Linked DNA regions of Homo sapiens. The protein of the gene in region 1 purifies or fractionates together with the protein of each later gene. This does not show direct contact. Each region holds a gene or a part of one and is shown in the gene's direction. Other genes may lie near its edges. The genes, in order: MDH1, LACTB2, PGD, SUCLA2, ME1, PGM2 and REXO2.

Region 1 (3,500 bases):
GTGTCCTGGACGGTGTCCTAATGGAACTGCAAGACTGTGCCCTTCCCCTCCTGAAAGGTGGGTTGGGGAGTAGAGAAGGGATTTTATGGTATTTGATTTCTTACAAAATACAGGTTTTAGGTTTTTGTTAAAGGCTCTCAATTAGAAATTATTTCATAAGAGGATTTTTTTATTTTGAACTACCACTGTTTATTAACTACTTATGTATACCAAGGATAAATAAGGGTAAGAAATGAGCAACAATCAATGTCAGGTAAAGGACTATCCTTTTTTCCCCAATGTGTGTGTGTATATAATTTATTATACCAGTTAAGTGTAATATTGCACAAGGGTTATACACCTGAAATTGTCTACACACACACACATTATAGACAACGTAGGAATTGTCTACATTGTGTTGTTATGGAGTCTGCTTAACTGGTAATAGTAGCATCCTGTAATGGAAAACTTTCTCAGTTTTGAAGGATGTCCTTCATAGCTATACATTGCTCTGGAAGTTGGTTGGTTCCTCTTACACGGTCCCCATCCCATCTACCAATCATCAGGTTGAGACATAGTGTAAATTGTCCTTACCATATGCTCTATAGTTTGAAAAAACCCAGAAGAGCTCAGCTAAGGGCCTTTGCAAATCATTGAACTATAACACAGATATAATAAGGAAGCCTTAAATTTGATCGAAAAGTTTATTAAAATATTCTAAATTAATTTAAATATTTTTCTTCAGCTATTTCTTCATCATAGTCTTTCTTTTGGTAAGGATTAATTAATGATACTCTCCTAGAAGTTTGCACAAAGCAAAATAATACATACCTTCCAAGAAAAACTTTCCTTAAAATTCTTCATCTGTTGAATAAACATTTGCTAGAAGGGATACTCTGCCATCTAAGTCTTTTGGTTGCAAAGTTCTGTGGAAGAATACATGACTGCCCACACTATTCTGTTGGTTCCCTTTTCTCACCCACAGCTCTTTCCAAATCAGCTTTGCTGCTTTTTCCCATTTGTATTCCTTTCTCTGCTGAGTTCCCTGTGCTTTTTCTCTAAAGGGCCCAGATTGCTGTTGGTTTGTCCTCTGCCAGATATGAATATGACAGGGAAGGGAAAGTTCAGCAAATAAGGACATGTGACTGGGAAAGAGGAAGATAATTTTTTTTTCTCCAACTGGTGTTCCTGTCTATGCCCATTTTCAGACTTATGGCAGCCTTGACTATGATGCAACTAGCCAATTTTCCAGTGAAAATGCTGAATGTTGGTCATAGCTTTTTTAATACAATCAACAAAGAAGTGCGATGACTTATGTTCTTTAGTCAAAAAGCAAGTGATGTTTGCTTATTGTACTAGCACTGGAGCATAGTGGTTGAACTCTGGACCAACCTAGGCTGGAATTACAGCTCCATTATCTTTTGATGGTGGCGAGTTAATCTCTTTAAACCTCAGTGTCTCCATCTATAAAATCAGAAGATTAAATTTGATAGTAATATAAATCTCTTAGCATTATCCTGGCACAAAACTCCTCAATAAACATTTATTATTTTTAAATTTGTGATTGGTGTCTTAGACCTTAAAGTAATTGTAATTTAAAGGTTAGGTGAATTAGTTGCTCTTTTGTGTTGTGTGGTAATTAGTGTGAATAACAAGTGTCACTTCAAAAGTCATCATTATACCTTGCATCATATATGATTATAAAAGATAAAAGCTATGGAGTTTTGACATTTAAGTAATTATTGAAACAGGAAAAGCAAAATAAATCTATTGACATTTCTAATGTTATGATTGTTAAATTAATATATTATCTTTCTCAGGCTCCTGAAATGTATATCAGTGTGATATGTAAACACTTGCAACAAGTGAAAGAATTAATGGGTAGATTCAATATGAAAAAGAAAACTTCAAACTTTGATGTTTAAGTAGCTCTGCGTATTTATTGCCATGTCCACAGATGTCATCGCAACAGATAAAGAAGACGTTGCCTTCAAAGACCTGGATGTGGCCATTCTTGTGGGCTCCATGCCAAGAAGGGAAGGCATGGAGAGAAAAGATTTACTGAAAGCAAATGTGAAAATCTTCAAATCCCAGGGTGCAGCCTTAGATAAATACGCCAAGAAGTCAGTTAAGGTGACCAATGCTGTATTTTATGGGATTTTTCATTATTAGCATTTGAAACTTATGCTTTTAGCATTTAAGCAAAACCAAAATTATTTGCCCTTTTTTCTAGTTCTGTACAATCATCAGTAAATACGGCTCTAGAGTTTTGCTTGATAAGCTCTCCCTTTCTGGGTTTTTTCTTACAGTATAGAAATCTATATTCAGAGTGCTCAAAAATATTTTTCCTATTAGTATAACGTGAAAATTTAGTATTAGTTCTTAAACATATAGAGAAGGCACAGGATCTTCTGGTGCATTTTTGCTGCGTGGGAATATTTATTTAGACATTTAAATTTGTGTGTGATTGTGAAAGGAGATAGCTAGCTGTAAGGTAAGTTTATTCTCAGGAATAGAAGATAGTGGTTTCTGAATGCTCAGATTTTCTTAATGCAGAGGAATTTTAATATGCTTGTCTCTTGAAGAATTGAGTCAGTATGACTTATAGTTCTCTCTTTGTGTTCAAACTATTTACTTTAGATTCTAATATGTCTTAATATTACAGTAAGCCTTTTTTATTTTTTATTAATTTTTTTAATTTTTTTGAGACGGAGTCTTGCTCTGTCACCCAGGCTGGAGTGCAGTGGTGCAATCTTGGCTCACTGCAACCTCTGCCTCCCGGGTTCAAGCGATTCTCCTGTCTCAGCCTCGTGAGTAGATGGGACTACCGTTGCACGCCACCACACCCAGCTAATTTTTGTATTTTTAGTAGAGACGGGATTTCACCATGTTGGCCAGGCTGGTCTCGAACTCCTGACCTCAGGTGATCCACCTGTCTTGGCCTCCCAAAGTGCTGGGATTACAGGTGTGAGCCACCACGCCCAGCCAAACCTTCTTTTATTAGTGAACTATCAATTAACTAGAACTTAATTGTCACCCAGCAAATAGGCTTGCCGGTTAAAGGTTTAACTGATTTCCATATACTTTCCTATCTTTCAAAAAAAGGTGAAAGAAAATTTTTTAAGATTTTTTAAGTTGCCCATTATAATGTTCTATCAATAACATTTCATAGATATCTGCATTTTTTGCTTTCTGTGCACTTCATTTTAAATAGTTAACTTATTTTCTGTCATCACAGAAAATAGTATAAATGAGTTTAATAGAAATCCACAGGTGCCAGTAAAAGATTAGAAGATTGTTCAGACTGCTAAATTGCAGGCTATTTGGAGGTAAAGTACTCCTTGCACAGTAATTCCACTTCTTCAAAGCGTCCTTGTTCGTGAGAAATATTTGCCAGCACTGCACTACTTAGAGACAATGAAGTATCTTGTCTACAGCTTGTCAAAAGAGGTACCAAAAAAAAAAAAAAAAAAGATATATGGGAGTCAGTCTCTGTAATATGGTTGTAACTTTTCTATAAA
Region 2 (3,500 bases), on another chromosome or scaffold:
TTGTAAAAGGCAATTTGAGACCCTTTCTGATCTGAGCTTATCTTACCTATCCAACTTTATCTCCACTCTTCCTAGCCAGTATTTTGCAGTAGAAAGTTGGTAGCATTATGTTGTCACACATATGTCATGCTCATTCTCATTTTAATGCTTTATTTTTTTGAGACAGAGTCTCGCACTGTCGCTCGGCCTGGAATGCAATGGCGTGATCTTGGCTCACTGCAACCTCCGCCTCCTGGGCTCATTCGATTCTCCTGCCTCAGCCTCCCGAGTATCTGGGACGTTAGGTGCACACCACCACACCTGGCTAATTTTTTTGTATGTTTAGTAGAGATGGGGTTTCACTATGTTGGCCAGACTGGTCTCGAACTCCTGACCTCGTGATCCTCCCACCTTGGCCTCCCAAAGTGCTGGGATTACAGGTGTGAGCCACCACGCCTGGACTTAATGCCTTTTCTAATGCTGTTCCCCTTACCTGCAAGTCCTTCTCTGTACCTTTACCCATCCTGCTCATTCTGTAAGTCACACCTCAAGTTCTATCATATTTATAAATCCTTTCCTAACTCTCTCTGAACTCCTGCTGCCTTTATTAGCCGAATTGTCCATTTAATATTCATTAAATGGTACCAAGTATAGTTCTTTGTTTCATGTTTGTAAGTTTTAGTTTCCCAATCAGGACAGCTTTTAAGAACTTTGATATCACAGTGGTTGTATTCAGTATACCTAGTATACTGGTTAGTTAATTGGCACTCAATTGTTAATTGGTTAATTAATTTATTTTCTTTGTGTCAGTGAAGGGTGGTATAGATTTAGCTTATTTTAAAGGTTTAATATCTTAGCCACTGGTTTGGGGCTTCATTTCAGTACTTGTAGCAAGGACCTCATGCTTTCGTTATTAATTAATGTTTATCCTTTTGTTATTAATTACTGTCATGACACCTTTGCTACATGTTAGGCACCTGGATAGAGAAGAGTTTCCAGGTTCTGTATTAGTGCCTCTTCAACACTTGTCAGGATGCCGAAGCTAGCTACTTTTAAATTTTTTGTATAAACTAGGACTGACTCAAAAAATAGAGGCTTTCATGTAGACCTAGAGGGGCATGAAAGAATGAAGAGCTGTTTGGTTGAAAGATATGAAATATTTACATCCCAGAGATAACCTGCTGTAATTCATCCCATTTTCTGTTGTCTCTTAATGTTAATATTTTATGCAGTCATTCACAAGTGTTAGCTCTATGAAAGTTGATCTCTTAAAAGGCTTAATTATAAAGTGTGAATTAATATATTTTATATGTTTTATGACTAGACACTACCTATTGCATTAAAAAACTCCCACGGAATCCTCAGAGAGAAGAAATTATAGGAAATGGAGAGCAACAATATGTTTATCTGAAAGATGGAGATGTGATTAAGACTGAGGGAGCCACTCTAAGGTAAGTAAATGTCCCTTAGCCAGGGAAGGTGAAGAGTCTGTGTATGTGTGTTATAGAAAAGGATGGAAGGATCCCAGCATTTTGGGAGGCTGAGATGGGAAGATCGTTTGAGCCCAGGAGTTCAAGACCAGCCTGGGCAATACCAAAAAAAAATTTAATTAGCTGAGCATGGTGGCACATGCCTATAATCCTGCTATTCAGGAGGCTGAGATGAGATGATTGCTTGAACCTGGGAAGCAGAGGCTGCAGTGAGTCAAGATTGTACCACTGCATTCCAGCCTGTGCAACCGAGTGAAACCCTGTCTCAAAAAAAAAAAAAAAAAAAAATAGAAGATCTGTGCATATGTGCTGGTATGTGTAAAGAGTACATCAGGAAGGATACAAAAGAAATCCAATAAACATTGCTTACTCTGGGAGGAGAAAATGAGTTGCTTGAGAAATGAGAAAAGAAAGACTTCACTCTTTATTAAATTGTTTATTTGAATCATATGATTACCATTGTTTTAAAAAATAAAATTTACACTTTAAAAAATAAGTGTTGTCTCCCAAGGAGGCTTAGGGATCTACCTATCAATTCAATTCAGGGCTTTCCCATATTCTCACTTCCCAAAGATGACCCATACCTAAATTAAATAAGTTTTAGGCCTGACCGATCATACCTCATGACCTATCTGAGGGTTTCAAAATGGTATTTCAAACTCAGTTATTGTAAAACTGAACTCCTCTCTCCCCCACAATCTGCACCTGTTTTCTGATCTCAGAACATCCACTTTTCTCAGTATGTAAGACTTTACTCATTCTTCTAAGACAGAGGCTTCAGGATTACCTTGCACTGCTCTTCACCTTTACCATCCCCCTCCCCTTGCCCACCACACTAATCAGGTTAGTTTTTACATCAAAAATATTTGTCAGCTGACACAAACAAATGGAAACACATCCCAAGTTCATCTCTGGGTAGGATCAGTATTGTGAAAATGACCATACTGGCAAAAGCAATCTACAAATTCAACACAATCCCCATCAAAATACCACCATCATTCTTCACAGAATTAGAAAAAACAATTCTAAAATTCATATGGAACCAAAAAGAGCCCACATAGCCAAAGCAAGACTAAGCAAAAAGAACAAATCTGGAGGCATCACACTACCTGATTTTAAACTATACTGTAAGGCCATAGTCACCAAAACAGCATGGTACCAATATAAAATAGTCACATACACCAATGGAACAGAACAGAGAACCCAGAAATAAACCTAAATACTTACAGCTAACTGATCTTTGACAAAGCAAACAAAACCATAAAGTGGGGAAAGGACATCCTTTTCAATAAATGGTGGCGGGATAATTGGCTAGCCACATACAGAGAATGAAACTGGATCCTCATCTCTCACCTTATACAAAAATCAACTCAAGATGGATTAAGGACTTAAACCTAAGACCTGAAACTATAAAAATTACAGAAGATAACATTGGCAAAACCCGTCTAGACTTTGGCTTAGGCAAGATTTCATGACCAAGAACCCGAAAGCAAATGTATTAAAAACAAAGATAAACAGTTGGGACTTAATTAAACTAAAGAGCTTTTGCATGGCAAAAGGAACAAACAGCAGAGTAAACAGAAAACCCACAGAGTGGGAGAAAATCTTCATAATCTATACATCTGACAAAGGACTAATATCCAGAATCTACAATGAACACAAATCTGTAAGAAAAAAACAAGCCCATCAAAAAGTAGGCTAAGGACACAGTTCTCAAAAGAAGATATGCAAATGGCCAACAAACATGAAAAAATACTCAACATCACTAATGATCAGGGAAATACAAATCAAAACCGCAATGCAATACCACCTTACTCCTGCAAGAATGGCCATAATCAAAAAATCAAAAAACAGTAAATGTTGGTGTGGATGCGGTGAACAGGGGACACTTTCTACACTGCTGGTGGGAATGTAAATTAGTACAACCACTATGGAAAACAGTGTGGAGATTCCTTAAAGAACTAAAAGTAGAACTACCATTTGATCCAGCAATCCAGCTACTGGGTGTCTACCCAGAGGAAAAGAAGTCAT
Region 3 (3,500 bases), on another chromosome or scaffold:
AAAGCCCAGCCTGGTTGGTGTGCTGTAGGTAGATATTCATGTTCAAGGCTCTGTCTCTTCCTGACCTCCGAACTGTTGTCATAAAATCATTCATTCATACACTAAACCATTTGATATGTATTTACTGAATCCCCACTCTCTTCTAGACACATTATAGTCAGTGTTTAATCTGTATACTTACTTAAAAATAGAAATGGGGTCTTGCTATGCTGTCCATGCTGGTCTCAAATTCCTGGGCTCAAGCGATCCTCCTGCCTCAACCTCCCAAAGTGTTGGGATTACAGGTGTGAGCCACTGAGCCTGGTCAGCCCTAAACTTTTAAATAGTGTGCAGCTCTGGCCACAGAGAGGATTATTGAAGATTAAGTAGGCTGGGTGCGTTGGCCTCCTGCCAAGCCAGGAGGCTTTTAGCCCAGGAGTTTGAGACCAGCCTGGGCGACATGGTGAGACTCCATCTCAAAAAAAATTTTTTTTTTTTGAGACGGGGTCTCACTCTGTCCCCCAGGCTGGAGTGCAGTGTTGCGATCTCAGCTCACTGCAAGCTCCACCTCCCGGGTTCACGCCATTCTCCTGCCTCAGCCTCCCGAGTAGCTGGGACTACAAGGCGCCTGCCACAACGCCCGGCTAATTTTTCGTATTTTTAGTAGAGACGAGGTTTCACCATGTTAGCCAGGATGGTCTTGATCTCCTGACCTTATGATCCACCCACCTCGGCCTCCCAAAGTGCTGGGATAACAGGCGTGAGCCACCGCGCCTGGCCTACAAAAAAAATTTTAAAACTAGCTGGGCATTGTGGTTCAAGGAGTTCAAAGTTGCAGTGAGTCATGTTCACACCACTGCAGGAGTTCAGGGTTTCAGTGAGCCATGTTCGCACTCCTGCATTCCAAGCTGGGCAACAGAACGAGACTCTTTTTAGACTATGTTTATTTGGAATAAATTCTTGTTTGTTTTAATTTGCCAAGGTATGTTTCATTTTTGGTCCATCTTAATGCTGGTGTCTGGTTACAGGTACCATTGTTGGATACTGGTGACATCATCATTGACGGAGGAAATTCTGAATATAGGGACACCACAGTAAGTGTTCTTCAGTCCAGATTCTTCCAGGTTCCGAGAACATTCTAGAAAAAAGTGTCAGCATCGCATATGTGACAGTAGGGTGAACTGCCCTGTGGTACTGATTTTTTTGAGATTACTACTGATACAATAGTTCTCAGCCTTTTTTTCTGTTAAGACACACTTAACAGAAGGGCCGGGTGTGGTGGCTCACACCTGTAATCCCAGCACTTTGGGAGACGGAGGCAGGTGGACCAAGAGGTCAAGAGATCAAGACCATCCTGGCTAACATGGCGAAAACCCGTCTCTACTAAAAATACAAAAAATTAGCCTGGCATGGTGGCATGCGCCTGTAGTCCCAGCTACTTGGGAGGCTGAGGCAGGAGAATTGTTTGAACCTGGGAGGCAGAAGTTGCAGTGAGCCGAGATCATGCCACTGCACTCCAGCCTGGGCGACAGAGTGAAACTCCATCTGAAAAAAAAAAAAAAAAAAAAGACACTTGGTGGGTGAGATTCTCAGTCACACATACAACTCAAAGGATGACTAACTCAGATACAGCAGGCTGAGAATTACGTTTTAACTCCTCCCCTTCCCCTTCCAAGTAATCCATGATATGTCAGTCTATAACTGGTTTAGAACCACTCCTCTAATGGTATCAAATGCTGAGGGAATTCCTGTGTGCTCTGAAGTGCTGAATGGCATTAAGTTGTATTACACCTACTCTTCGTTGAGTCTTATTCAAGGTCTTTTCCAGTAAAATGCCAATGTGTGTTTGGCTTAATTATTTTACTTTGGGGATGAGGTAGGTATCGTGAATGTCCATAGTTGTATTGTTTTGTTTTTTAACTCCTACACATAGGGGATTAACTTTCCTGAGTCATCAGTTATTCCTAGATCCTTGGGTCATTTCCTGTAAATGTAGGCTCTCCATTCCTATCTTATACTTCCTCTCATTTATAAGGGAAACATTTTTGGGTAGCATAATGAAACATGGAAGCATAATGAAACATGGAAGCATAATGAAATTATTTTTCTGTCCTTCAGAGACGGTGCCGAGACCTCAAGGCCAAGGGAATTTTATTTGTGGGGAGCGGAGTCAGTGGTGGAGAGGAAGGGGCCCGGTATGGCCCATCGCTCATGCCAGGAGGGAACAAAGAAGCGTGGTGAGTGCCATCAGCACTGTGCCCATCTCTGTACAAGGGAGCTGGACTTTGAGAACGAATAAGCCAGGAGCAGTTCTGCCACCCTGATCTCTGTGGTGCCCTGAGTGTGACAGCTGGGAGATGCTGGCAATTTCTTTTATCTAGACATTTTGTTGCTTTGATATAGTATATGTGCACAATCCTCTTTTGCCTTTTTTCTTCTGTTATTTCTATCAAGACTGATACCTGACGTTCTAAATAGGCTTTTTTTTTTTTTCCCGCCCAGGCAGGAGTGCAGTGGTGAGATCTTAGCTCACTGCACCCCCCGTCTCCTGGGCTCAAGCAATTCTTGTGCGTCAGCCTCCTGAGTAGCTGGGACTACAGGCACATGCCACCATGCCTGGCTAATTTTTTGCCTTTTAGTAGAGACAGGGTTTCACCATGTTACCTTGGGTGGTCTCGAACTCCTGACCTTAGGCGATCTGCCCGCCTTGGCCTCCCAAAGTGCAGGGATTACAGGCATGAACCACCACACTTGGCCTCTAAATAGGCTTTAAGGAAGCAGTTTAGGTAATGTTCTGTGCAATGTCTGGATGTAGGAATAAGGTCTGCCTCTTTTAGCTGATATATAACCCAAAAGTAACTTAATGTGATAATCGTGGGTAACAGGCTGGGCATAGTGGCCCATGCCTGTAATCACTGCCCAGCACTTTGGGAAGCTGCGGTGAATGATCATTTGAGCCCAGGAGTTGAAGACTAGCCTGGACAACATAGCGAGATCCTGTTTCTACAAAAAAGTAAAACAAACATTTTTTTAATTAAAAAATATAAATTGGCCGGGCGTGGTGGCTCACGCCTGTAATCCCAGCACTTCGGGAGGCTGAGGCAGGCAGATCACCAGGTCAGGAGATCTAGACGATCCTGGCCAACATGGTAAATTCCTGTCTCTACTAAAAATACAAAAATTAGCCGGGCATGGTGGCGTGCGCCTGTAGTCCCAGCTACTTGGGAGGCTGAGACAGGAGAATTGCTTGAACCTAGGAGGCAGAGGTTAGTGAGCCGAGATCGCGCCACTGCACTTCACCCTGGCGACAGAGTGAGAGTTTGTTTCAAAAACAAAACAAAACAAAACAAACAAAAAATACACACACACACACACACACACACATATATATAAATAATTGTGGGCAATCCGATATATATATAAATAATTGTGGGCAATCCGCTTGCCCTGGCCTCCCAAAGTACTGGGATTACAGGCGTGAGCCACCGTGCCTGGTCTGAAATATGATTCTTTAAGGCTGG
Region 4 (3,500 bases), on another chromosome or scaffold:
AGATAAAAAGTGTAGAGGGTATTATAAGGTCTTCTAGGCCATTGTAAGCACTTTGGCATTTAACTGAGTGAGACTGGCATTCAGTGCAAGGTTTTAAGTAGAGGAATGGTGTGCCTGCTTTGGCTGCTGCCTTGAGAATATTCTGTGGGGGACAAAGGTCATATAGTTAAGAGATAGTGGTGGTTGGGATCAGAGTCTAAACTGCAGGTGATGAGGAATGGTGAAGATTCTGGATAAATTTGAAGATAGAACCAGTATGATTTCCTGGCTGAATGGAAGTGGGGTTTGAGAAAGACAAGTTTTTTAAACACTCTCTTGGCTGACTACGCATAGGGTCATCATCTGGTTTAAATAGCATGTATTTCTGGTGAAGGCTTACATCAGTAATTTTCTAAATGTTCTTTTAAAATAATTGTTAATGTGTAAACTTTAGGTTGTTTTTGTTTGGTTTCAAACTCCATTTCCTACCTCATTGATTTGGTTGGTTCATCTGATTAGGTGGGAGCTTCCTCTCATTCTGCTTGATAAATGCATCGTGGAGTGACATCCTAGTTGTAGAGGACTCTACTTCAGTCTGTTCAAATCCATGTTTATGGAGTAGTTGTTATATCCCAGAGACTTCCTTGTGCTTGGGATATAATGAATACAGTGAGACCTTTAGCCCTGATCTCAAAGGTTATTTTGCCATAATGTATAGTTGGTGCCACCCTGCCAGTGTGGGCAAAATGCTATGAGAGGCAAAATGAGGAGGCTCTGAATTCTGCCTGTCTGGTACACAGAGAATGCCTTTCTAAGAGGTATTACTCTTTTTTTTTAACTGATACATAATATTTTTGTGGTACATGTTATATTTTGTTACATGCATAGAGTGTGTAATGATCAATTCAGGGCATTTAGGATACCCATCACCCAGAGCATTTACTCTTTTGAGACAGCCTTGCTCTGTCCTCCAGGCTGGAGTGCAATGGCACAATCTTGGCCCATTGCAACCTCCGCCTCCCGGATTCAAGTGATTCTTGTGCCTCAACCTCCCAAGTAGCTGGGATTACAGACATGTACCACCATGCCTGGCTAATTTTTGTATTTTTAATAGAGATGAGATTTCACCATATTGGCTAGTCTGGTCTCGAACTCCTGGCCTCATGTGACCCGCCTGCTTCAGCCTCTCAAAGGGCTGGGATTACAGGAGTGAGCCACCGCACCGGGCCCATTTACTCTTGATCATGAATGATGAGTACTATCTAGGCTAAACAGCCAGTTTGCTGGTTTTCCACAGCAAATTAGAAAGGAGAGGAAAAGGGATAAATAGTAATCAGTCTACCTGTTAAAGAAGAAAAATTCAGTCCATTTATTTAAAAATATGCATAAGCTTTGCAAGCATAGAATTCTGAAATCTTTTGATACAGATACCTTAATAACTCCTGATAGTACTACTCATGCAGTACTGCTCAATAATGTATTTTAATAGAACTTTCTCTTAGTGGGACAGTATAAATCAGTATCAATACTGGTAATGGTAATATCCCCCAAATCATGACATATTCCTGCTATAGCGATATAACTCAGATGTTCTCAGGACAGCAAGTTTACATGTGAATAGAGAGGGAGGGACGTGTTAGGAAGACATGAAATTCAATTTTGTACTTTTGATACTTTCCAGAGTTCTAGATGACACTTTCCAAAGTGTCAAGAAATGGTTAAATTATTTTCAGTTTACTTTTAAGAAATGGTTTAATGTGGCCAGGTGCGGTGGCTCATGCCTGTAATCCCAGCACTGGCTCACGCCTGTAATCCCAGCACTTTGGGAGGCCGAGGTGGGCAGATCATGAGGTCAGGAGATCGAGACCATCCTGGCTAACATGGTGAAACCCTGTCTCTACTAAAAATACAAAAAAATTAGCCAGGCATGGTGGCGGGCGCCTGTAGTCCCAGCTACTCGGGAGGCTGAGGCAGGAGAATGGCGTGAACCTGGGAGGCGGAGCTTACAGTGAGCCGAGATCGCGCCACTGCACTCCAGCCTGGGCGACAGAGCGAGACTCTGTTTCAAAAAAAAAAAAAAAGAAATGGTTTAATGTAAGTGACGAATTTTGAAAATTGTGGGCCTTTTAGACAGTGATTATTTTAGTGTTCTAATCTAGAAAATCTACATAAAGAGAATGCCTTATTTTTGGACATTGTGAATAAATTAGACTTGATTTAATAACACCTGTCAATATGTATGTTAAATAACAAAATACTATGTCTGGCATGCTGCTCCATGCTTCATATTTAATAGAAGTGTTTTTCTTCTAGGTTCAAAAGATGTCGTGATAAAGGCACAGGTTTTAGCTGGTGGTAGAGGAAAAGGAACATTTGAAAGTGGCCTCAAAGGAGGAGTGAAGATAGTTTTCTCGTAAGTCACATTTTTTAAGGAAAAATCATCCTTGTTAAAGACTGATTAAAGATTACTTATTGAATTGATGAAAATACTGAAATTTAAATATTAGATGAGATAAAATTTTGGCTATTATGTGGATTTGCTTTTTCTCAACTGGAGGAAAGAAAAATTTGAGTTCTTTTTCTTATTTTAGTCCAGAAGAAGCAAAAGCTGTTTCTTCACAAATGATTGGGAAAAAATTGTTTACCAAGCAAACGGGAGAAAAGGGCAGAATATGCAATCAAGTATTGGTCTGTGAGCGAAAATATCCCAGGAGAGAATACTACTTTGCAATAACAATGGAAAGGTCATTTCAAGTGAGTAATTGTAGACATGATACATACGGGATAAATTTATGACATTCAATTTCAAAAGTCCATTATTGTTTCTATTTATGTGGGAAAGATTTTAAAAGTACAAATTATAATCTGTTTGTATGTCATGAGCATGATATTTATGTCATTTAAAAAACAGCTTCTTTAATGCCGTAAAATTTGATATATAATATCATGATCTTAAAATTATAGGAAAAATTCTGCTGTAATAAATTTCATGGGATTCTCAAATTGTTAATTCACTAAAAGCAGCTTAAATCATCTCTGGATCATCTCCAGATTGAGAAAATTATATCTAGCATAGTAAAATATTCTAATGAAAGAGAAAGTTGCTGAACCCACTAGAAGAATGTGTATCCATTGCCTCATCTTCTGTTTTCTCAACTTCTTGGGTTTGTTTTTTTTTTTTTAATAGTTTCGGGTTTGTTTCACTATATGATTCAATATTTGGTAAATTGAGGGATGACATTAAGTAGCAAACAATATGGTTTTAAGGAGTATTACATTAGCACAGCTCTCCTCTCTTTATGGAACCTAAAATGTTGAACATAAAGCTTCTGGTGAAGAGAAAATCCCTTTATAGACCTGGTGTTTGGAAGAGAGCATTGATAATCATTTTATACTAGAATTATCTGTTTTTCGAGGGTATTAGGTTTTACAAGCTGAATCTGTGTGTTAACTAGCTTGTTTTTTGAAGCAACTGGGTATATATTTGAAAGCCCCAGTACGGATTTCATGTAGAACATTAA
Region 5 (3,500 bases), on another chromosome or scaffold:
GGCAGCCTTTGCCCCCATTCTCCTCCCTATGCCCACTATAAACATGTGCTTTTGAAAAGGTAGTAATTAAATCTGGTTATATCTTCTACGATATAGTAAGAATCATCACAATATAAAGGGATAGGGGAGATTAAAGTAATAATATCACAAATAAAGTTTCAGCTATCCATAATATGTTTGAGGTAATTAGAGACTCTTGAAAAAAACAGAGAGAGAAAAGATGCATCATAGAATTTGGGATTTCTGAGGTGAGAGGTGCCCACATGCACTTTGCCAAAAGAAGGCAAAAGGATTTCAGCAAGGGATCCTGAAAAGGGAGAATGAAGGGAAAAGACATCTACTCATCTCCATACCAACTGAAGTTATTGGCATAACGAATATGTATTCCAAATCAGATTTTGAAAAATAAAGAAAAATAAGCCATTAGTCTAGAAAATAGAAGTCCAAAGGTACAGGTAGTTGCCTCAGTATTACCGGATTTAGAAAAGGTTGTCACATTCCAGTAGTTTCTTTAAACTAGGTCATCAAGTCAATTTTGAAAATGGTAGAGAACATACTTGGGAGACATTTTGTGTGTGTGTCTTTTGCTTCTTCTGTTTTGTCAAGTAAGACCTTCAGTATTGCTAGTATTACCATTTCGTGATTCCTGGACTTTTTTCAGCATTCTTTCAGCACTTGTAAGTCATACCAGGAATCAAGCCTTTGAAAGTGTTGCCATGGGTAATTTATGCTTCTTACTAGATGGAATGTCTTCTGGCTAAGTTCTGGCTTCAGTGTCTAGGAGCTGCCAGTGGGTATACTATGATTAATAAAGATGTTTATGATTAAGTATATATCTTTTTCTTTTCATACATTATTCATCTGTCTTTTTTATTATTTGTTTCCCATTCTAGGCAATTTAAATATTTTTCATTATATCTCAGCTTGACAGCCAAAAAAGCTGTGACTTCCAATTTATCTTATTCTATAGCTTTTCTTCTTTAGACTCATTATTGTATACTTTTTTGAAAACATAGCACATAACCTCTTAAAAACGCATGTGGTAGGGATATGATAGATCATTTAGTACACTGATTCTCAAAACTGGCTAATCATTTCTTTTTTTTATTTTTTATTTTTTTGAGACAGAGTCTCGCTGTCGCCCAGGCTGGAGTGCAGTGGTGTGATCTTGGCTTACTGCAAGCTCTGCCTCCTGGGTTTATGCCATTCTCCTGCCTCAGCCTCCTGAGTAGCTGGGACTACAGGCTCCTGCCACCACGCCCAGCTAATTTTTTGTATATTTTTAGTAGAGACGGGGTTTCACCGTGTTAACCAGGATGGTCTCGATCTCCTGACCTCGTGATCCGCCCGCCTCAGCCTCCCAAAGTGCTGGGATTACAGGCATGAGCCACTGCGCCTGGCCTACAGCAGATTATTAATAGGAGAAAATATACCAAAACTTTAAGTGCTGGAATTATGATTTTTTTCTTCTTCACAAAAATTTTAATTGCAACAACAACTAGCATAGAGCTCTTACTATAAACCAGGTACAGTCCTGAGTGTTTTACATGCATTACATTTCATTTACCCCACAAACAACCTGATGAGGTAGAAGTCCTTATTATCCTTATTTACAGATGAGGAGACAAGCACAAAGAGGTTCATATGTTTCAAATTTTTTAATAATTCAGTATATTGCTTTTAAAAACAGAGCCTGTCTCTACTAAAAATATAAAATTAGCCGGGCACATGCCTGTAATCCCAGCTACTTGGAAGGCTGAGGCAGGAGAATAGCTTTAACCCGGGAGGCGGAGGTTGCGGTGAGCCGAGATCGCGCCACTGCACTCCAGCCTGGGCAACATGAGCAAAAACTCTGTCTCAAAAAAAAAAGACAAACAAAACAAAATTAAAAACAACAACAACAACAACAACAACAAAAAAAAACAGAGCCTGGCATGGTGGCTCACGCCTATAATCCTAGTGACTCAGGAGGCTGAAGCGAAAAGATCACTCCTGAGGCCAGAAGTTCGAGACAACCCTGGGCAATATAGCGAGACCCCCATCTCTAAAAAAAAATGATAAATTAGCCAAGCATGGTGGTGCATGCCTGTAGTTCCAGCTACTAGAGAGGCTTAGGTGGGAGGATCCCTTGACCCCAGGAGTTCAAGGCTGCAGTGACCTCTGATCCACAGCACTCCAACTTGCATGACAAAATGAGACCTCATTTCAAACAAACAAAAGCAACAGAAATAAAATGATAATACCCTTTAAAGAAAGAAAATTGTACTATCTTCATTATTAACAATTTGCAAAGACTATGACATACTATTTGTTAAGTTTTTGCCCGGGGTGATTCTGTGCTATATTGAAAAGGCTTTGAGTTCTAGTACAATCTCTTGCCTTGAGCAAGTCCCTTAAAACCTCTGAACATGTTTCCGCATATGTAAAATGACTATACTTATACTTGTCCTGCTTCTCAGAATTGTTGAGGGGATCAAATGAAATATGTGAAAACAACTTGTAAGTCATCAAGTACCATATAAAATTAGGCAGTGATCCATTATGTAGTCAAATCTTTAAAATTTGCAGCTAGAATATTATAATTAGATGTTTACTAGATAACACATGGCGCATTCATAATCAGAACATTAAAAACAAAAACATATAAAATGCATACTTACTGAGAAAATCTAACAATGACATAAATATGACTTCAAATTCTTTTCTTAGTCAGTAGCATAAATTGGTAGGGCTAAAGCTGAAGCCAACTCCAAATTCTGAGACCTGCTATAAAACACAATGTGTGACGAACAATATAATTATTTAAATTATATTTTGCATGGCCATTTGTTAATGCTAGTTCTCACATGTCTGTAAAATTAGGATTTTTAATATCAATTAAATGAAGGACTTTGTTTTGTTCACTGTTACATCTCCATTGCCTAGAACATTGACATATAAATATTTGTTAAACGAATGAATGAAATAACATTCTGACAATTGAAGAAGAGATTTTAAGAATAGCTGTAACACATCATACATAAAAATGTTAAGCATAAATATTTGTAATATATGTACCGAAATTTATTGACCCTCACATGTTTGGCAGATTCTTAATTTTTTCTTACTGGCTTTACTTAGGGACGTGCTTCCTTAACACAAGAGAAAGAGAAGTTTGCCCATGAACATGAAGAAATGAAGAACCTAGAAGCCATTGTTCAAGAAATAAAACCAACTGCCCTCATAGGTAAGCATTTTCTCCTCTCCCTTCTCCCCTACCCCTTATTTTGACCTGATTGTTTTTTTTACTACCAATTTTTGAGGTATAATTTAGCCTTTTTGAATTCAAAAAACTACACGTTCGCTCAAGCGACAGTACCCTGTAGAGACCTAGATTTTTAACTTTAGTCCTGTCGTCTTTCTCTTACTGATCTGAGATGAAGCGTATGGCCCCCTCCTCTAACTCAGCCTGTTAATACCTGGCACGTTCAGCACTTTTCTAGGCTTGATTACTCCAGATA
Region 6 (3,500 bases), on another chromosome or scaffold:
TCTAAGTAAATCGCTCATTTATTTGTGGTAACGTATTTTACACCAGCTTGAAGGAAGATTTGATGCCATTTTCTGCGTCTTACCCTAAGCAAGTTTCTGTGGAAGTTGAGAAAAATGTCAAAGAATTAAGTTTTCTTTCAAAGGCTGATTGGAACCAAGATGTATATATGTGTATGGGTGTGTGTGTGTGTGTGTGTATACACACATGCGTACTCCAGGATGTCTTTATATTTCAAATAAAGCAATCTCTAATCAAATTCCAGTCTGTGTGGTGTACGCTGGATTGTGATAGGCTTAGGCTGGGATTTTCAGCCTCTGCACTGTTGACATGTGACTGCACAGTGGCTGGATGATCTTTTGTTGTGGTTGTAGGGTACATTGTAAGGTGTTCAGCAGCACCCCTGACCTCTCCCTACTAGCTGCCAGTAGCAACTCTCTCCATTTCCCAGCATGACAAGCAAAAATGTTTCGAGACATTTCAGATGCCTGGAAGGAGAAGGTGCAGACTTGCCCTGGCTGAGAACCACTGAGATAGACAGAGAGCTGAAAGGCCAGGAAGCAGCCTGGCTCTGCCACTAAGTGGCTGTTAGAACCGGGGAAAGGGGCCTGACCTTTCTTGGCTTTAGTGCCATTTCTATAAAACAAAAGAGTGAAATGAGATGACTCCTGAGAGTCCTCCAGCTTTACTGTCCCATGCCAGGGTAAAGATTATAATAAATGCTGTCCTTGATCTGGATGCTGCATTCACCCTAAAGAACATTCAGCATTCATTTCCTTCTTTCCATCACTCACAGTCCTGATCACTCAACTCTCCTTTTCTTCCCTGTCACTCTGCATTCTCAGGTTTGCCCGACTTGCTGCAACCACATTTATCAGTCAGGGGATTCCTGTGTACCTCTTTTCTGATATAACGCCAACCCCCTTTGTGGTAAGTAGCCATTTCCTTTCATAATTTCCTGTCACATGATCAGGGATGGGACTTGGCTGAATTTTATAGTCTTTAGGGCTATTGGGATTGGACTGTTTGAATGACAGAGGAGTTCCTTGGCATGTATGAGACATTTCCTTCTCTCCTGGAATGTTTCTCCCACATCTTAGTAATATTTCTCTGGTATTCAACTTTTGATTCATTGGAATTGGTTTTTTTAAATTGCAGTTTTCCTTTTCTTTGCATTCTAAGGGTATTCGAGAGAGTCAGCAAATTTTTTTTTTTGAGACAGAGTCTCGCTCTGTTGCCCAGGCTGGAGTGCAATGGTACGATCTTGGCTCACTGCAACCTCCGTGTCCCGGGTTCAAGCAATTCTACTACCTCAGCCTCCCAAGTAGCTGGTATTACAGGTGCCTGCCATCACTCCCAGCTAATTTTTGCATTTTTAGTAGCGACGAGGTTTCACCACGTTGGCCACGCTAGTCTCGAACTCCTGGCCTCAGGTGATCCACCCAGCTTGGCCTCCGGAAGTGCTGGGATTACAGGCATGAGCCACCACGCCCGGCCTTTTCTCTGTTTTTAAATTTGGTTTGTAGTTCTTTTTCTCAGCTATCACAATTAGGAAACTTCTTGTGTCGAAATCTGAATTCACCTCAAACCCTGTCTTGTCATGAATATTTTTGACAAGCTGGCACACCCCTGTTTTATACAAATGTTTTATTCTAAATACTATTCATGGCTAGTACAGAGAGCATGCTCGGCATATTTGAGTAAGACTTTCATCAAATCCTTCATGTAGCACAATCTAAAGAAGAAGACAGTAGGGACTATGACAGTTGTTGCTTTGACATAGACAAAACTTTTAAGAGCTGGGCCAGATGCTGAGAATATGTTTTGGAAAATGTGATTTGGATGCAGTTAGTCACATCTAGTAGAAATGAGACTGTATTGCTACAGAAGGAGGTTCCAATTCATTTTGTGTTTGCCGGCTCTAGTGCACTGACAGGTAGATGCAGCACCCCTAGGCTGTAAATAACCTGCTAGACACTCTATTCACATCTAAATGTAGTTCAGGTTTCATTGTTTGATGGAAAAATTGTCATGTATTCAAGCATCCTAATTACCTTCTGTACTAAGTGTTAATAGCTATTAATTTTATGTCAGACATGAATTGAACCAGTGTATCATGATCCTCTGCCCACACTGAGGAGTCGTCCTCCCCTTTTCTTTGGCCCAGAACACCTGAGAGATGTGACATAACTTCCAGGGTGTTCAATGACTGCAGTGATTCTTGGTGAAAGGGTGGAGGGGACGGACAATTTAAATCTCAGGTTGCCTGTGTGTAATCAATGTCATTTGCCACAGTAGGGGGAATAATCCAACCCCTTCTCCCATTTTGGGAAGTAGTAGAGATGGGAGCTAAGTTGAAATATAAATATTTAACCCTGGAGTGAGAGATAAATGAGGAACCTGTAAGAGCATTCTCCATTCCCTCAAATTTTTTTTTTTTTTTTTTTTTTTTGAGACAGAGTTTCGCTCTTGTCTCCCAGGCTGGAGTGCAATGGCAGGATCTTGGCTCACTGCAACCTCTGCCTCCCAGGTTCAAGTGATTCTTCTGCCTCAGCCTCCCAAGTAGCTGAGATTACAGGCGCCCATGCCTGGCTAATTTTTTTGTATTTTTAGTAGAGACAGGGTTTCACCATGTTGGCCAGGCTGGTCTTGAACTCCTGACCTCAAGTGATCCACCTGTCTTGGCCTCTCAAAGTGGTGGGATTACAGGCGTGAGACACCACCCCTGGCCCCTCAGTGTTTTCCTCAATGTTTTCCTTAAAAGCAAATGAGAAAGGAGGAGAGGGAGAAGCAGTTGGAGGGAGTAAACTGAATCCACAAACTTCTGTCTCAGGTAGAAGCATTGAAAGCATTGGAATGGAGGCTTAGACCATCGTTGTGTTTGAAGAATTTTCTAGCTCTACCAAGTAGAAGATGGAATGAGAAGGCACTGAGGAAATTACTCACCTTTCTTATTAGGAAATACATCCTGGAATTATGAGCAGCCAGTTAATTCTAAGGGTAATTGCATACTGCTGGGGTGTGGCTCAAAAATATTATGCTATTTATATATTATGTTTATTAAAAGGGAGCAAGTTGGCATGAACAGTATAAAATAGACATTTTAAGAATATCTGGTTATTTTCGTTAAAAACTGTTTGTTCTTGTTTCCTGCTATGTTACAGCCCTTCACAGTATCACATTTGAAACTTTGTGCTGGAATCATGATAACTGCATCTCACAATCCAAAGCAGGATAATGGTTATAAGGTATTTTCCTTTTTCTACTCCACACGTACATCCTTCTGTAGGAATCCTGTATCTGTAATTTTTGGGACCATAGGTAATAGGTGCCTTATTTCCATTAACTGTAAACCTTCTGAATGTGTTCCTGGGTCCTCTAGGTCTATTGGGATAATGGAGCTCAGATCATTTCTCCTCACGATAAAGGGATTTCTCAAGCTATTGAAGAAAATCTAGAACCGTGGCCTCAAGCTTGGGACGATTCTTTAATTGATAGCAGT
Region 7 (3,500 bases), on another chromosome or scaffold:
TTCGCAGAGATTACCAACACCAGTTTTCTTGTTTGGCTAAATCTCCTTTTTAGTAGTAGGATGTCAGGCGTATTTTAATTAAATTCTAGCCATTTCTTTCAGTGATTGTGAACTGTTTTTACCACCTTAGTAGTAATAATACCTTGGATTTATGGAATACTTTTCTATCAGAGAGTTCAAAGAGCTCATATCTATAATTTCTTTTATCCTGTTAACATTTCTATGAGGGAAGGGGTACAGTTTATTATTATCACTATCTTACAGAGGGAGAAGCTGAGGTGACTTGCTTTAATGCCGTAGCTACTGTTAACTGCCAGGACTTATCTGAGAGACTCATACTTGGATGTTCTATGAAATGGAGCTGAGAATTTGAGGGCTACTTTGTGTTTTGGATATCAACAATTACCTCTTTAATTTTTTTTTAAATATAAAAATACTGTTAAAACAGTGTAACTATCCAAAGTATGTGTGTAGTGAACTATTGGATTTTTGTCCTGTTCTATTGCTCCTTCTTACTCCAAGTTTATGTATTGTCTTGATATTTTGTATGTTTATATAAATGCGTGTTTTTTTTAAAACAAGTGTAAATGAAATCATACCTATACATACATGGTTTTGCAATTGTTTTTTTCACCTGCAATATAGATACTTTTTTTTTTTAAGAGATAGGGTCTCACCCTGTCACCCAGGTTGGAGTGCAGTGGCATGTAGCTCACTGTAACCTCGAACTCCTGGGTTCAAGTGATCTTCCTGCCTCAGCCTCCTGAGAAGCTAGGACTGTAGGGGTGTGCCACCAGGCCCACCTAATTTTTTTTTTTTTTTTTTTAATTTTGTAGAAATGAGGTCTTGCTATGTTGCCTGGACTGGTCTTGAACTACTGGCCTCAAGTGATCCTCCCACCTCGGCCTCCCAGAGTGCTGGGATTACCATGCTTGGCCTAGACACTTTTCAAAATGAACTCATAATCAAGGGTTGACAGACTTTTCTGGAAAGAGCAAGTTATTAAATTGTTTAGGCTTTGAGTGCAGTCATATGTTCTTGTCATATGTTCTTTTTTTTTTTTAAACAATCTTTTACAAATGTAAAAATCATTCTTAGCTTTCTAGCTATTAATAAATAGCTGAAGTGTGGGGCCATAGTTTGCTGACCCTTGATAGATATCTGTGTCATCTATTTGTAGGATTAGAGTTTTCAGTGGTGTGTGTATGTTCGTATGTTCTATTTTGCCTTAATGAACAGTGCTGGAATGAAGGGGGAACACTTAAAGTATCCTTATCTCTTACTTTCTCTGATATGTATATTTAGTCCTTAAAACAGCTTAAGCTTTCCCTCTGAAAGTAAGGTTATTCCTGTTGTTTCTTGGTGACTGATGGCGTTTCCCATCCACAGGGTCCTAACCTGATTATAAAACAACCAGATGAGTTGCTGGACAGCATGTCAGATTGGTGTAAGGAGCATCACGGGAAGGTAACATTACCAAATAACAGGATTGCTGCTTTGGGGATCAGTAGCAAGCTTTTTGCTCCCACACCTGAATCCGATACCATTGTTGGATGGTATTTTAAAAAGGCTTAGAGAAGATTGCATGGCAAGCCTGGGAAACTGCTTGCTTGTTTACTTTTCATCTTTGGGACCTCTCGAGATCATCTTCTCCTGAATGTCCTCTTTTTTTTCTCTCCTACATTCAGTCTGTCGCGAACGCATTGTGGATTGTCAAGTATTACTCAAGTCAGTCTTTTGGATAAGGTTAGACATCAACTTTCAGAGAAGGGGGATTGCTGCTCTCCTGTTAATAGTTGTTTCTTCCCAGAGGTTAATATCCTTGGACTTTGAACACCGTCTTTTTTGACTGTGGACATGCTATTAACAGTCAGGATCATAACTAAGTTGGCTTGGATTCTTGAAGAAAAAAAAATGGTGCAAAGATGGCAGTTGCAATTTGAACTTGAGCTCTAAAAATGGTCTATTTGTGGTTATATTTGCCCATTTTAAAAGTGAAATTTCATTTCTGGATGCCTTTGAAAACTGACTTTACATGTGTTTTTGGTGGGGGGCTGGGGATTCTCTCTTGCAGTCTGGCCTTACCAAGGCAGTGAAGGAGAGTACAATTACATTGCAGCAGGCAGAGTATGAATTTCTGTCCTTTGTACGACAGCAGACTCCTCCAGGGCTCTGTCCACTTGCAGGTAAAATCCAATCCTGTGTATATCTTATAGTCTTCCATATGTAGTGGTTCAAGAGACTGCAGTTCCAGAAAGACTAGCCGAGCCCATCCATGTCTTCCACTTAACCCTGCTTTGGGTTACACATCTTAACTTTTCTGTTCAAGTTTCTCTGTGTAGTTTATAGCATGAGTATTGGGAAAATGCCCTGAAACCTGACATGAGATCTGGGAAACACAAACTTACTCAATAAGAATTTCTCCCATATTTTTATGATGGAAAAATTTCACATGCACAGAGGAGTGGATTTAGTAATTGTTAACCTTGTGTCGTATTTGTTTTACCTATTTTTTGTTGGACATTTTAAAGGAAATTGCAGGCATCAGGACACTTCATTCCTAAATACTTCATCAAACATCTCCTAAGATAAAGACATTTTCTTATGTAATACAATGTCATTGCATTGAAGATAATTAAACATTATTCAGTATCATATGATATCTAGTCCACATTAGATGTTCCCCAAAATATTTGTTTTTGAACCAGGATTCAGTCAAGGCTCGTGCATTTCATTTAGTTATATTTCTTTAGTCTCTTAATGTAAAACTTTCCACCTATTATTTTTCCCCTGTGTCATTGACTTTCTAAAGAGACCAGGCCTGTTCTACCAGGATTTTTAAAAGGGTGACATTGCCAGAGGGAAGTTAATGTTTCTCTGAAGGTATATGTACGTTTGTATATGTAAGTCGATGTGGTAGCTAATACTGTTCTTAAACATTTATAAAAATAAGTTTTGGCATTAAGTACTAGAGCATATATTGTGTAAATGTTTCCGCCAGCCAATGTGGCTGATATCTGTTTTAAAGGTCTCATTTAAAATTTAGTGTTTTTAGTATAAGTTACTTTTTGGGGACATAAATATGCATATGATTTGTTTAAAAATTTGGATTGTAAATAAAGGTTTATCTACCTATGTGATTCAGTTAAATTTTTAGTGTTAGTGGTGTGAATTTTGTGACACTGGGAGAAAGTTTGCATATCAGGTATGACCTTAGAAAGTAACAAATAGATTTGTGCATTACATCAAGCATGTGGAATGATAGATTTGTCCTTCTGTTCATGAGAGGTCATTTACAAATTTATAAGGAGCTAAACTGACTAAGTACTTGGAAATCTGTACTTGTAAGCTAATCACATTTACCCAAACCTGATTTAGAAATATAGAGGTGCTTTTAGGAATTGTTTGAATTTTAAAAAATCATCTCCATTTCAAATACAACTTATGAATTTTGATATCCTGTTGTATAATACTAGAAATATAGAGATGCAGTATGCTTC

The links.
Region 2: the proteins of MDH1 (region 1) and LACTB2 fractionate together in Homo sapiens (co-fractionation; one large-scale study listed by BioGRID). This does not show direct contact.
Region 3: the proteins of MDH1 (region 1) and PGD fractionate together in Homo sapiens (co-fractionation; one large-scale study listed by BioGRID). This does not show direct contact.
Region 4: the proteins of MDH1 (region 1) and SUCLA2 fractionate together in Homo sapiens (co-fractionation; one large-scale study listed by BioGRID). This does not show direct contact.
Region 5: the proteins of MDH1 (region 1) and ME1 purify together in Homo sapiens (co-immunoprecipitation; one study listed by IntAct). This does not show direct contact.
Region 6: the proteins of MDH1 (region 1) and PGM2 fractionate together in Homo sapiens (co-fractionation; one large-scale study listed by BioGRID). This does not show direct contact.
Region 7: the proteins of MDH1 (region 1) and REXO2 fractionate together in Homo sapiens (co-fractionation; one large-scale study listed by BioGRID). This does not show direct contact.

Annotation. Positions count from the first base shown.
Region 1 is NC_000002.12:63,595,463-63,598,962, forward strand, and holds part of MDH1 (malate dehydrogenase, cytoplasmic), read left to right. Parts: coding exon 1-57; intron 58-1,936; coding exon 1,937-2,112; intron 2,113-3,500. UniProt on the Homo sapiens protein: Catalyzes the reduction of aromatic alpha-keto acids in the presence of NADH. Plays essential roles in the malate-aspartate shuttle and the tricarboxylic acid cycle, important in mitochondrial NADH supply for oxidative phosphorylation.
Region 2 is NC_000008.11:70,655,686-70,659,185, reverse strand, and holds part of LACTB2 (endoribonuclease LACTB2), read left to right. Parts: intron 1-1,303; coding exon 1,304-1,430; intron 1,431-3,500.
Region 3 is NC_000001.11:10,402,064-10,405,563, forward strand, and holds part of PGD (6-phosphogluconate dehydrogenase, decarboxylating), read left to right. Parts: intron 1-1,007; coding exon 1,008-1,073; intron 1,074-2,097; coding exon 2,098-2,216; intron 2,217-3,500. UniProt on the Homo sapiens protein: Catalyzes the oxidative decarboxylation of 6-phosphogluconate to ribulose 5-phosphate and CO(2), with concomitant reduction of NADP to NADPH.
Region 4 is NC_000013.11:47,987,774-47,991,273, reverse strand, and holds part of SUCLA2 (succinate--CoA ligase [ADP-forming] subunit beta, mitochondrial precursor), read left to right. Parts: intron 1-2,292; coding exon 2,293-2,392; intron 2,393-2,570; coding exon 2,571-2,733; intron 2,734-3,500. UniProt on the Homo sapiens protein: ATP-specific succinyl-CoA synthetase functions in the citric acid cycle (TCA), coupling the hydrolysis of succinyl-CoA to the synthesis of ATP and thus represents the only step of substrate-level phosphorylation in the TCA.
Region 5 is NC_000006.12:83,228,552-83,232,051, reverse strand, and holds part of ME1 (NADP-dependent malic enzyme), read left to right. Parts: intron 1-3,120; coding exon 3,121-3,226; intron 3,227-3,500. UniProt on the Homo sapiens protein: Catalyzes the oxidative decarboxylation of (S)-malate in the presence of NADP(+) and divalent metal ions, and decarboxylation of oxaloacetate.
Region 6 is NC_000004.12:37,836,686-37,840,185, forward strand, and holds part of PGM2 (phosphopentomutase), read left to right. Parts: intron 1-843; coding exon 844-928; intron 929-2,887; exon of another isoform or gene 2,888-2,974; coding exon of another isoform or gene 2,975-2,998; intron 2,999-3,162; coding exon 3,163-3,246; intron 3,247-3,380; coding exon 3,381-3,500. UniProt on the Homo sapiens protein: Catalyzes the conversion of the nucleoside breakdown products ribose-1-phosphate and deoxyribose-1-phosphate to the corresponding 5-phosphopentoses.
Region 7 is NC_000011.10:114,442,467-114,445,966, forward strand, and holds part of REXO2 (oligoribonuclease, mitochondrial precursor), read left to right. Parts: intron 1-1,389; coding exon 1,390-1,467; intron 1,468-2,074; coding exon 2,075-2,186; intron 2,187-3,500. UniProt on the Homo sapiens protein: 3'-to-5'exoribonuclease that preferentially degrades DNA and RNA oligonucleotides composed of only two nucleotides. Binds and degrades longer oligonucleotides with a lower affinity.